Linked DNA regions of Homo sapiens: region 1 is linked to region 2. Evidence: fine-mapped expression QTL. A gene starts in region 2. The other region holds a variant in brackets. All regions are shown on one strand. Distances are between the middles of the regions. Region 1 overlaps SCFD1 (sec1 family domain containing 1). Region 2 holds the start of SCFD1 (sec1 family domain containing 1).

Evidence for each region. PIP is the estimated chance that this variant, and not a neighbour inherited with it, causes the effect.
Region 1: its variant is fine-mapped to the expression of SCFD1 in whole blood (INTERVAL, PIP above 0.99).

The regions. Positions count from the first base shown.
Region 1 is chr14:30,726,563-30,731,945 of GRCh38, forward strand. The region is part of intron 23 of SCFD1 (sec1 family domain containing 1); the gene reads left to right. Among named protein-coding and RNA genes, the nearest start is that of SCFD1, 110 kb to the left of the region's middle. The variant C/T (reference allele first, on the strand shown) is at 2,295.
Region 2 is chr14:30,619,267-30,624,649 of GRCh38, forward strand. It overlaps SCFD1 (sec1 family domain containing 1), which reads left to right and starts at 3,053. Exons shown (of 25, transcript NM_016106.4): 1 at 3,053-3,133. The coding sequence starts at 3,073. G2E3 (G2/M-phase specific E3 ubiquitin protein ligase) reads left to right here. Exons shown (of 15, transcript NM_017769.5): 15 at 1-798. RefSeq lists enhancers at 2,387-3,586, 2,656-3,335.

The DNA.
Region 1 (5,383 bases), 110 kb after region 2:
GACTGAGGCACCATAAGTTTCCCATAAATTCATTCTTTTTGCTCGCTCTGCCAAGATACCAGGCCATTTTCCTTGCACTACCTTGGCTTTTAATTGAGGAGCGTACTTAATCCTTCTTGAGTCTGGGTACATGTGTCTTCCCATCTTTATGTAACTGTTGAGTTTGTTTTATCATTTTTCCAGGCTGCTTGCCACCATTTCCCTTCCTCCTGAAATAACATTTCTTGTCAACAACCAGTAGGTCATTAAGTCGTCTTGCTCAGTATGTCTCTTTTCATTAAAGGCAAATCGGGCTTACCATAGGACTCATAGAACTGTGCCAGTGTTTCTGCCCAAATTGGTTTAACCATTAAATAAGTTGTTGCCATTGAGTTTTTATTGCTTGAATATAGTTTGAATATACCTTTTGGATCCAAAATCTTTCAGGAACCTTTTGAGAGATGGCGGGCGAGGGAAGACAAAAGTTTTCAGTTCCCCGAGACAGTGTCTTATGAGTAGTAATTATTCTCAGCAAAAGATCAGGGCTATAAGTGTGTAAGCCCACCTAGTTATCCTTTACTTGGTTTCAGTACTAAGAATTTTTTTAACCTTAGTGCCTTCCGCCCACAGAAACAAGGTACATAGGCATTAGAGCACATGTTACTATGAGTAGTTGGAAATGCAGCAGTTATTTTATGTCTGTGTTTCTGGACACCTTTCTTAACAAATCATAACTGCGTTTAATAGTTACGTGGTGGTCTGTGACTTCGTTGTTCAACAAAATCGTTTGTGTGCATTTCAGAGACAACGTGTCCTAATTTTGCCTCCCAAAAGTGGTTCTCTACAATAGATAAAACCAATGGGAGCCAAAAGGCAAGCATTAGAATTATTCTGTGTTTATCCTCAAGATGTTGTTATTAGCATCATCAAGATTCAGACAAAATTCTACAGATTAAATTATTAAATCTCCTGCAACCCATCTTAGACAGCTTCAAATAAAGGAGACAATTTCATCAGGTCTTATGGGCATCTGTAAATATAGCTAAGAGCATTCTCTTGCTCCCAGGCTCTTACGAGATACCAAAATAATGTTACCTTTCTTTTTTGCATTATTCATTTATTGGCTCCCTTTCTGAGAGTAAAGACTTTTCCTCCTTTCTCCTGTTGTTAGTTTTTTACCCAGACCTTGATCCCTGAGTTAGGAGACCATCACATTCGGCAAGAGGACTTACCTGTGGAGCTGACAGCAATGTGAGACTGGCCAGTGCTTTTCCCCTTTGTCCATTCCCAGTCACATGATGTTGAGGTGGATAACTACAAGTTTATAGGACTGTCTTGTCCACATGTGAGGAAAGATGAAAAAAAAACATTAATTCCAAGCTTAGATAGGTGAAAATAAAAACAGTCCATTCCATCATTCCTCAGACAGTTATATTTAGAGGTATTATCTTCATGTCATGTTTGCAACTGATCCGTCTTCCTGAGCTTGTAAATGTAATCCATATCCATGTTCTACATGATCAGTCAGAGAAAAAGAAAAATGTTCAGAAATATGGAGGAAATTGTTATCAGTTCCTGTGTTATTACTCCACCCCTCCCTTATTTTTCCTGAAGTATCTCTATAATCTGTTTAGTGTTGAGTCCCCCTTTAATTTCATGCCTTTTATGTTTTGACACACATTCCATCATGCAACTCTGTCTCTCATTACCACTTTGAAAAGTGTTTCAAACATTTGCTCCAATACTTTGTGTTTGGTAAGGTATATAAGTTAGTCTGTGGTAGATAATGGTTGTTAGCACATTGTTGAACTGCACCTGCAGTAAAGTGAGTTTCTTTATCAAATGATATATAAGTAGGAGGTCTAAATTGAAATTGTTTCTGCTGCGGCCTCTAATAATGTTAAAGGTGATTCCTGCAGCTAACAGGTATACACATCCAAATGAGTGTGTATTCTAGACAAGACCTGTTGCTGTCCACGTGGAACCATAGATAATGGCCACCATAATTCTGTGTGAATGTATGTTTTCACTTCTTTTAGGTATATACCTAAGAGTGGAATTGTTGCGTCACTTAGTAACTGTAATCATTTGAAGAACTACAGACTGTTTTCCAAAGCAGCTGCACCATTTTACATTCCCCCCAGCAGTGCATGAGGGTTCTCACTTCTCCACTTCATTACTAACACTTGCTTTGTTATCTATATTTTCCTGATGACTTACGAAGTCAAGAATCTTTTCACATGTGTATTGGCCATTTGTATATCTTTGGAGAAATGTCTGTTTAGATCCTTTGTCCCTTTTTTTTTTTTTTTTTT[C/T]CCCCCGAGACGGAGTCTCGTTCTGTCACCCAGGCTGGAGTGCAGTGGCGCAATTTTGGCTCACTGCAGCCTCTGCCTCCAGGGTTCAAGCGATTCTCCTGCCTCAGCCTCCCAAGTAACTGGGATTACAGGTGCACACCACCATCATCCACCTTGGCCTCCCAGAGTGTTGGGATTACAGGCTTGAACCACCACGCCTGGCCCCTTTGTCCATTTGTCCATTTTTAATTGGGTTATTTTGCCTTTTTATGATTGAGTTGTAAGAATTCTTTATGTAATATTGATACAAATCCCGTATCAGATACATGATTTCCAGATTTTTTCCCCCATTCTCTGGGTTGTCTTTTCTCTTTTTGTGATGGTGTCTTTTAAAGTGCAAAAGTTTATTTCGGCGAAGTCCAGTGTATCTCTTTTTTTCTTTTGTTGCCTGGGCTTTTCGTGGCATATCTAAGAATCCTTTGCCAAATCTAAGGTCATAAAGATTTGACCCTGAGTTTTCCTCTAAGAATTGTATAATTTTAAAATATGGTATGAAGATCCAGTTTCATCTTTTTGCATATCCAGTTGTTCCACTGCCATCTGTTGAAAAGACTATTCTTTCCCCCATGTAATGGTTTTTTGGCAACCTTGTTGAAAATCACTTGATGTGTATGGGTTTATTTCTGAACTCTCAATTCCATTATTTGGATCTATAGGTCTTTTCTTGCACCAGTATTACACTGTGTTGATCATCATGGCTTCCTTAGTATGTTTTTGAAATCAGGACACATGTGAGTCCTACTTTATTGTTTAGGCTTTTCTGGGTCTTTTGCAATTTTTTATGAATTTTAGAATTTGCAAATGTCTACAAAGACTGTGTTAAATCTCTGGATCAGTTTGGGGAGTATTTTCATCTTAATGTTAATTAAGGCTTCTGGTCCATGAATAGGGGATGTTTTCCTTTTATATCTTTAATTTCTTTCAATAATATTTTGTAGTCTTCAGAGTATATTTTTATGCTGTTACGAAAGGCATTTTTTTTTTTTAAGTTCTAGGGTGCGTGTGCACAACGTGCAGGTTTGTTACATGTGTATAAATGTGCCATGTTGGTGTGCTGCGCCCATTAACTCATCGTTTACGTTAGGTATATCTCCTAATGCTTTCTCTCCCCGCTTCCCTTACCCCACTACAGGTCCCGGTGTGTGATGTTCCCCTTCCTGTGTCCAAGTGTTCTCATTGTTCATTTCCCACCTATGAGTGAGAACATGCAGTGTTTGGTTTTTTGTTCTTGCTATAGTTTGCTGGGAATGATGGTTTCCAGCTTCATCTATGTCCCTACAAATGACATGAACTCATCCTTTTTTATGGCTGCATAGTATTCCATGGTGTATATGTGCCACATTTTCTTAATCCAGTCTATCATTGATGGACATTTGGGTTGGTTCCAAGTCTTTGCTGTTGTGAATAGTGCCGCAATAAACATACCTGTGCATGTGTCTTTATAGCAGCATGATTTATAATCCTTTGGGTATATACCCAGTAATGGGATGGCTGGGTCAAATGGTATTTCTAGTTCTACATCCTTGAGGAATCGCCACACTGTCTTCCCCAATGGTTGAACTAGTTTACAGTCCCACCAACAGTGTAAAAGTGTTCCTATTTCTCCACATCCTCTCCAGCACCTGTTGTTCCCTGACTTTTTAATGATTGCCATTCTAACTGGTGTGAGATGTATCTCATTGTGGTTTTGATTTGCATTTCTCTGATGGCCAGTGATGATGAGCACTTTTTCATGTGTCTGTTGGCTGCATAAATGTCTTCTTTTTAGAAGTATCTGTTCATATCCTTCGCCCACTTTTTGATGGGGTTGCTTTTTTCTTGTAAAGTTGAGTTCTTTGTAGATTCTGGATATTAGCCCTTTGTCAGATGAGTAGATTGCAAAAATTTTCTCCCATTCTTTAGGTTGCCTGTTCACTCTGATGGTAGTTTCTTTTGCTGTGCAGAAGCTCCTTAGTTTAGTTAGATCCCATTTGTCAATTTTGGCTTTTGTTGCCATTGCTTTTGGTGTTTTAGACATGAAGTCCTTGCCCATGTCTATGTCCTGAATGGTATTGCCTAGGTTTTCTTCTAGGGTTTTTATGGTTTTAGGTCTAACATTTAAGTCTTTAATCCATCTTGAATTAATTTTTGTATAGGGTGTAAGGAAGGGATCCAGTTTCAGCTTTCTACATATGGCTAGCCAGTTTTCCCAGCACCATTTATTAAATAGGGAACCCATTCCCCATTTCTTGTTTTTGTCAGGTTTGTCAAAGATCAGATGGTTGTAGATGTGTGGTATTATATCTGAGGGCTCTGTTCTGTTCCACTGGTCTATATCTCTGTTTTGGTACCAGTACCATGCTGTTTTGGTTACTGTAGCCTTGTAGTATAGTTTGAAGTCAGGTAGTGTGATGCCTCCAGCTTTGTTCTTTTTGCTTAGGATTGACTTGGCAATGCAGGCTCTTTTTTGGTTCCATATGAACTTTAAAGTAGTTTTTTCCAATTCTGTGAAGAAAGTCATTGGTAGCTTGATGGGGATGGCATTGAATCTATAAATTACCTTGGGCAGTATGGCCATTTTCAGGATAATTGATTCTTCCTATCCATGGGCATGGAATGTTCTTCCATTTGTTTGTGTCCTCTTTTACTTCGTTGAGCAGTGGTTTGTAGTTCTCCTTGAAGAGGTCCTTCACATCCCTTGTAAGTTGGATTCCTAGGTATTTTATTCTCTTTGAAGCAATTGTGAATGGGAGTTCACTCATGATTTGGCTCTCTGTTTGTCTATTATTGATGTTTGGGAATGCTTGTGATTTTTGCACATTGATTTTTGTATCCTGAGACTTTGCTGAAGTTGCTTATCTGCTTAAGGAGATTTTGGGCTGAGATAATGGGGTTTTCTAGATATACAATCATGTCATCTGCAAACAGGGACAATTTGACTTCCTCTTTTCCTAATTGAATACCCTGTATTTCTTTCTCCTGCCTGATTGCCCTGGCCAGAACTTCCAACACTATGTTGAATAGGAGAGGTGAGAGAGGGCATCCCTGTCTTGTGCCAGTTTTCAAAGGGA
Region 2 (5,383 bases):
TTTGTAAATTTTTCCCCTAATTATATGGAAGCTATTGGAACTTTTGTATTCAGTGCTAAATACTAAGTCAAGGGGAGTATATTAGGTAAGTTTTTTCAGTGACTGTGCCTTTAGCATTCAGTCATTATAAGAAAATGATCAGAACAAAATCATTACATTATAAACATGTAATTCTTTTATATAGTGATTATCATGTACTGCATTGTTACTTTAAAATAAGCTATTAAACTAGTTTTTATGGTTCAAGTAATGCAATACAAAGTTTCATGCTTCAAGTAATGCAATACAAAACATAACCCATTTAATGATGAATTACTTGAATGTATATTATCTGTGGTTTAGGAAAATTTGGATTGTCTTGAAGAGACTCAGTTTTCAAGTTCTGATTTTGACCATTATCTCTTCTAATTCATAAACATATCCCAGTACCTACACTATGCCAGGTATTATGCTAGGTGATCGTTTATATGTCAGCCTATTTCCCCCCCTTTTAAAGACTGCCAGATTAACCAAAAAGCGTGACATTTATAACAATGTTTTATAAATAAATAAATGTGTTTATGCCACTAAAGGTAAACTGCCTATTTAAACTAAGTAATTTTTTGGGATTTAATAAGATTAAGATTCTGACGAAACTGAAAGATACAAGATTCCTTTACTCTCCACATTTGAGAGATCCTATAAGCAAGCAGTTAGTGTCTGACACCCAGGAACCTATAGAAATGAGGGAATCTGTGTTAAAACTATGTATCCTCTAATGTAAAATAGCTTACCAGAATAAATTATTTAAGCCAAAAATCTGGACTCAGATAAATGGCTATAGTAAATTAGGTTAATGAACAATCTGTAGCCATAGATTATTTTCAGTCTTTCTGATTCTAATAAAACAAATACCTTATTCAGTCTCAGCCTTACAAGGGCTATTTGTCTATGGTTGCTGTTCTTCTGTGAGGTGTATTTTTCTATAAATTTATTGCCCACATTCTGTGCACTTGGTCAGGAGTTTTTATCATTTCATATATATGCAGTGTACATCAATTTTAAAATTGTCTTCGTGGTTTTAACATGACTCATAGTCTTGGGAGAGAATCTGTGATGGAACTGAAGTGGCTCAATGATGGATTTGCATTTGAAAGTGGAAGTACCCAAATGAGCAAAATTGGGCTCTCAGACATTTTATATTTCATAGAGACTGTAGAATGCAGTAGAACTTTCCCATAGGGCAGAAATAATTTGTTTAGTTGGAACACACCTAGATCATTGAAGATTCCTTCAAAATATTAGTAATAGTACTGAAGACACACATGTATTCCAGTTAATTTCTTAATGAATGTGCCAATTAGCTATAAAAATGAGATTACATAATTTTTTTTTCTTTTTTGAGACAGAATCTCACTCAGTCACCCAGGCTGGAGTGCAGTGGCGCGATCTCTGCTCACTGCATCCTCCGCCTCCCAGGTTCAAGCAGTTCTTCCTGCCTCAGCCTCCCCAGTAGCTGGGATTAAAGGCGCCCACCACCACACCCGGCTAATTTTGTATTTTTAGTAGAGACCGGGTTTCACCATGTTGGCCAGGCTGGTCTCGAACTACTGACGTCAGGTGATCTGCCCACCTCTACCTCCCAAAGTGCTGGGATTACAGGCGTGAGCCACCGCACCCGGCAGAGATTATGTAATAAGATAACCTGTTTTAAATGTCACAAAAATAAATTTTTATTAATGAAAAAAGCCAGTGTTTCACACTATAAAACAATATATAATCGTTAGGCTAACCATTTCATTTATATAATTGTGAAAGTTAAGCTTTTGAGGTACAGAGTGATTTCATTTCAGAATTTGGTGCAACTTCATAATGAAGCGTCATCAATGAACTCGGGAAATGAGGTGTCATTGTGTATCCATTTTGGTCATACAGTAAAATCTATGGATTAAGTTAGAAATCATCTATCCCATATATTTTGCGGTCACGTGGCTTCAAGTGTACATTAAACCGCCAGCACAAGACCAGCCTGGCCAACATGGTGAATCCCCGTCTCTACAAAAAAAAAAAAAAAAAATTTAGCCGGGCGTGGTGACCCCTGCCTATAGTCCCAACTAGTGGGCAGTCTGAGGTGGAAGGATAGTTTGGGAGGATCGCTTGAGTCCGGGAGGTCGAGACTACAGTGAGCCGAGATTCTGCCACTGCACTCCAGCCTGAGCGACAGACAGTGAGATACTATCTCAAAAACAAAACAACAACAAAAACCAGCACATCAGCCTGGCCTGATGGTGTGCCCCTGTAGTCCCTAGCTACTTGGGAGACTGAAGCAGGAGGATCGTTTGACCGTCAGAATTTGAGGCTGCAGTGATCCCTGATTGCGCGCTCCAGCCTAGGCAACACACCCCACTACTGCTTGACTTCCTTCCCACGGCAAGGTGATTTTGCAATTACTACAAGGAAAGAGGAGAAATGCTAATTTCTCATTTTGTACCTCCCTGGATCCCGTGTCCATGCCGGCAGAACGCCACCATAAAGCTACACCTTTTTTTTTAAAGAGATGCGACTGAGAAATATGCCAGATCAGAGTAATGCTCCAATGCTTTCCGTTTCTCTGGAGAAAGGAGCAAAGGGAAGACTCCTGCTGCACTGAGAAACGAGAGCTAACGTTAAAATGTTGCCTGTGTTTCAGGAGCTTCATTTACTTCAGTCCTGTGGTCCTTATACTCCTAGAGCATTATCACCCTTTAAGTGCTCTGTAAGTCACCAAACCAACAGTTCAGTAATTAGGTTCTTAGCACTACACGCTCCTACCCTAACAGCTCAATTTAATGTTGCTACCATTTGAGAGAGTGTGGCTTGATTCGGTAGGATAAAAACTCTTAGTATTCGCCTAACATTACGGGCCACTGAATTAACCTGCACCGGGTCTCCCAGTTCTACCGAGAGTGGAGGTCTTCCTGGAGGAGGTGGGGTCCGGAACTCAGGCACACCCTTTGGCCCCGCCCTTCCGGGCTTTGCTTCCGGGGCGGTAAGGGCAGCCACGTCATCCCCCCGCTCCGCTCCCCAGCCGGGCAGTGGCTCGTGGGAGCCAAGATGGCGGCGGCGGCGGCAGCGACAGCAGCAGCAGCAGCCAGTATTCGGGAAAGGCAGACAGGTACTGACTTATTCTCTTCTCCTTGAAGCTTCGTGACTGCCCCGACGACATCCTTCTCCTCTGGTGCGTGCAGCTCAGAGACCGATCTCCAGGAGTTTAATCCAGTCCCTAGAACATCAAGAGCCCCTCCCCTTTGAGTTTTTGGGGAGAAGTTGCCATTAGCTTGAGGACTCGGTTCCTCCTGTGGTGCAGGAGAAGGAGCTTCAGCGGTGGGCGGATTGCTACGGCCCTGCTCTTGTCTCCTTCCTAGTGGGCATCAGAAGGCCATCACAACAAGATCTAGCAGCTGATAGCTTCTTATCTATGTTGCCACCTATGAGGTCTCCGAGTTTCTGTGCGTGGTTCAGTTCTCCTGGTTTTGATTTTTAAGAGAACTCCCATTTTCTGACACTCAGAGAATTTAGGTATTTTCACAGCGGCTTGCTTTGCGCCACTTCTCTACTTCGGACCAGTCTTTTGGGGGTACCTGCAGAAAAATGCCTGGTGATAAACATTTTCTCCTTCAGCTTGCTGGAAGGCATTGAAGAATGGCAAAACAAATGAATTAATAGCTTTCTCATTTTAATTGTTTGACACATTGTTTTAAAATAATATTTTATCTTCAATAGAGCATGTTTATATAGCTTCTATTTATGCAGAGAAATGTAAAAAGGCACATATTCTTCTCTTGAGTTTTGGGTTTTTTTCCGTCTTAGAAATTAGTTTTGCCTTACTTGAAAACTTCTCATGACAACTTGGTTTATACCTGTTAGCTACAAACTAAAGGTTTATACTTGTTAACTAGTTGTCTTAAAAGTTTTCAAGCAATTTATTCTGAGGAGCTAATAGAAATAAGGCATCAAGAATGTGCATACTTGGAATTCTGTTTCCTGAAATTATGCTCTGTTGGATATAAATATGAATAGGAAAATAAATTTATAATTCATATGACCTACAGAAGGGATTTGGGCTGTACTTGATTCCTTCCTTTGGCATTTAAAGAAAAAGTGATAGACTTCAATTTAGTAATGACACACAAAAGATACTGAGTTGCGTTCTGCTTTTCCCAGTAAATAATTTAGTATAACCTATCAGGTGAAGTCAGGCATAACTAAATATAGGGAAGTTCAAATAAGATTTGGGGCATACCTGCCATTCGTTGTATATGTTTAAACAAATGGAAGCTCCATTTGTTTTAATACTGTGTTTCTGATGACTATACTACATATTAAAATAACGTGTCAGTAAAACTGTACCAATACAAGAGAGCTTTTTGAAAAATAAATTTGCGTGGCCGTAAACTTGTATGCAGAAATTTTGTAGATCATTAAAATCTAATCGTTTGTATTTCTGCAGAAATAAACATAGTAAGATTTTACAGAATTACTAGGTAGTGCTAGATCTATTTTTTATCAAATTTTTACTGTCATTGAATTCTGCCTTATTTTCAGAGGAAGGTAAATCCTTGTATATATATTATAATGCAGAATTAGCTATTTCCCTCATGCCTATGGAGAATGTTTTGGGAGATAACTCACAGTCCTTAAATATTCTAGATACTAGAATATTTGGGTGGATGAGATAATAGTTGGCATTTATTGAGCATTTACTATTGTTAGGCATTGCATTAGGTGATTATGTATTATCTCCATTTTACAGGTGAGGAAAGTAAGATAGAGGTAAACTAACGTGCCTGTTTCTTGCTTTGCCTGCCTGAAAAATCTTTATTGGTCTCCTGAAAAATCTTTATTGATCTTTTGAAGGTCATCCCACAAGCCATCTCCTTTCTTCCTGGTTCACTGTCCCCTCTATCCATACCTTCAGTTCAATAGGTAGAATCAGTTGCCTCCTGCTCCGTGTTACTGTTGTTCTTCATTGAATGCGTCTTCGTTACAGGTTCTTGCACATCTTCCCAGCTTCTCAACATTGCAGGGTCCCATTAGTGTTCTCATCTAGCGCCTTAGCTTTCAGTATTATCTGTATGTTGATGATTCCCAGGTTTATATCCCTAGTCTGGCCGTCCCATCTGAACTCAGTCTACTCCATATCAGTTAATGGCAGTTCCGTCCTTTTAGTTGTTCAGGTCAAAAACCTTGAAGTTTTCTTGACTTGTCTCTTTCATGTCTCATGTAAGATCTTTCAGTAAATCTTGTCAGTTCTACTCTGAAAATACATCCAGGATCTGACTGTTGTCATTGCTATTCCGAGGTCCTGTCCACCATGAATTTCTGCAGTAACCTATTTGGTCTCTTTGCTTTTACAATCCTGTTC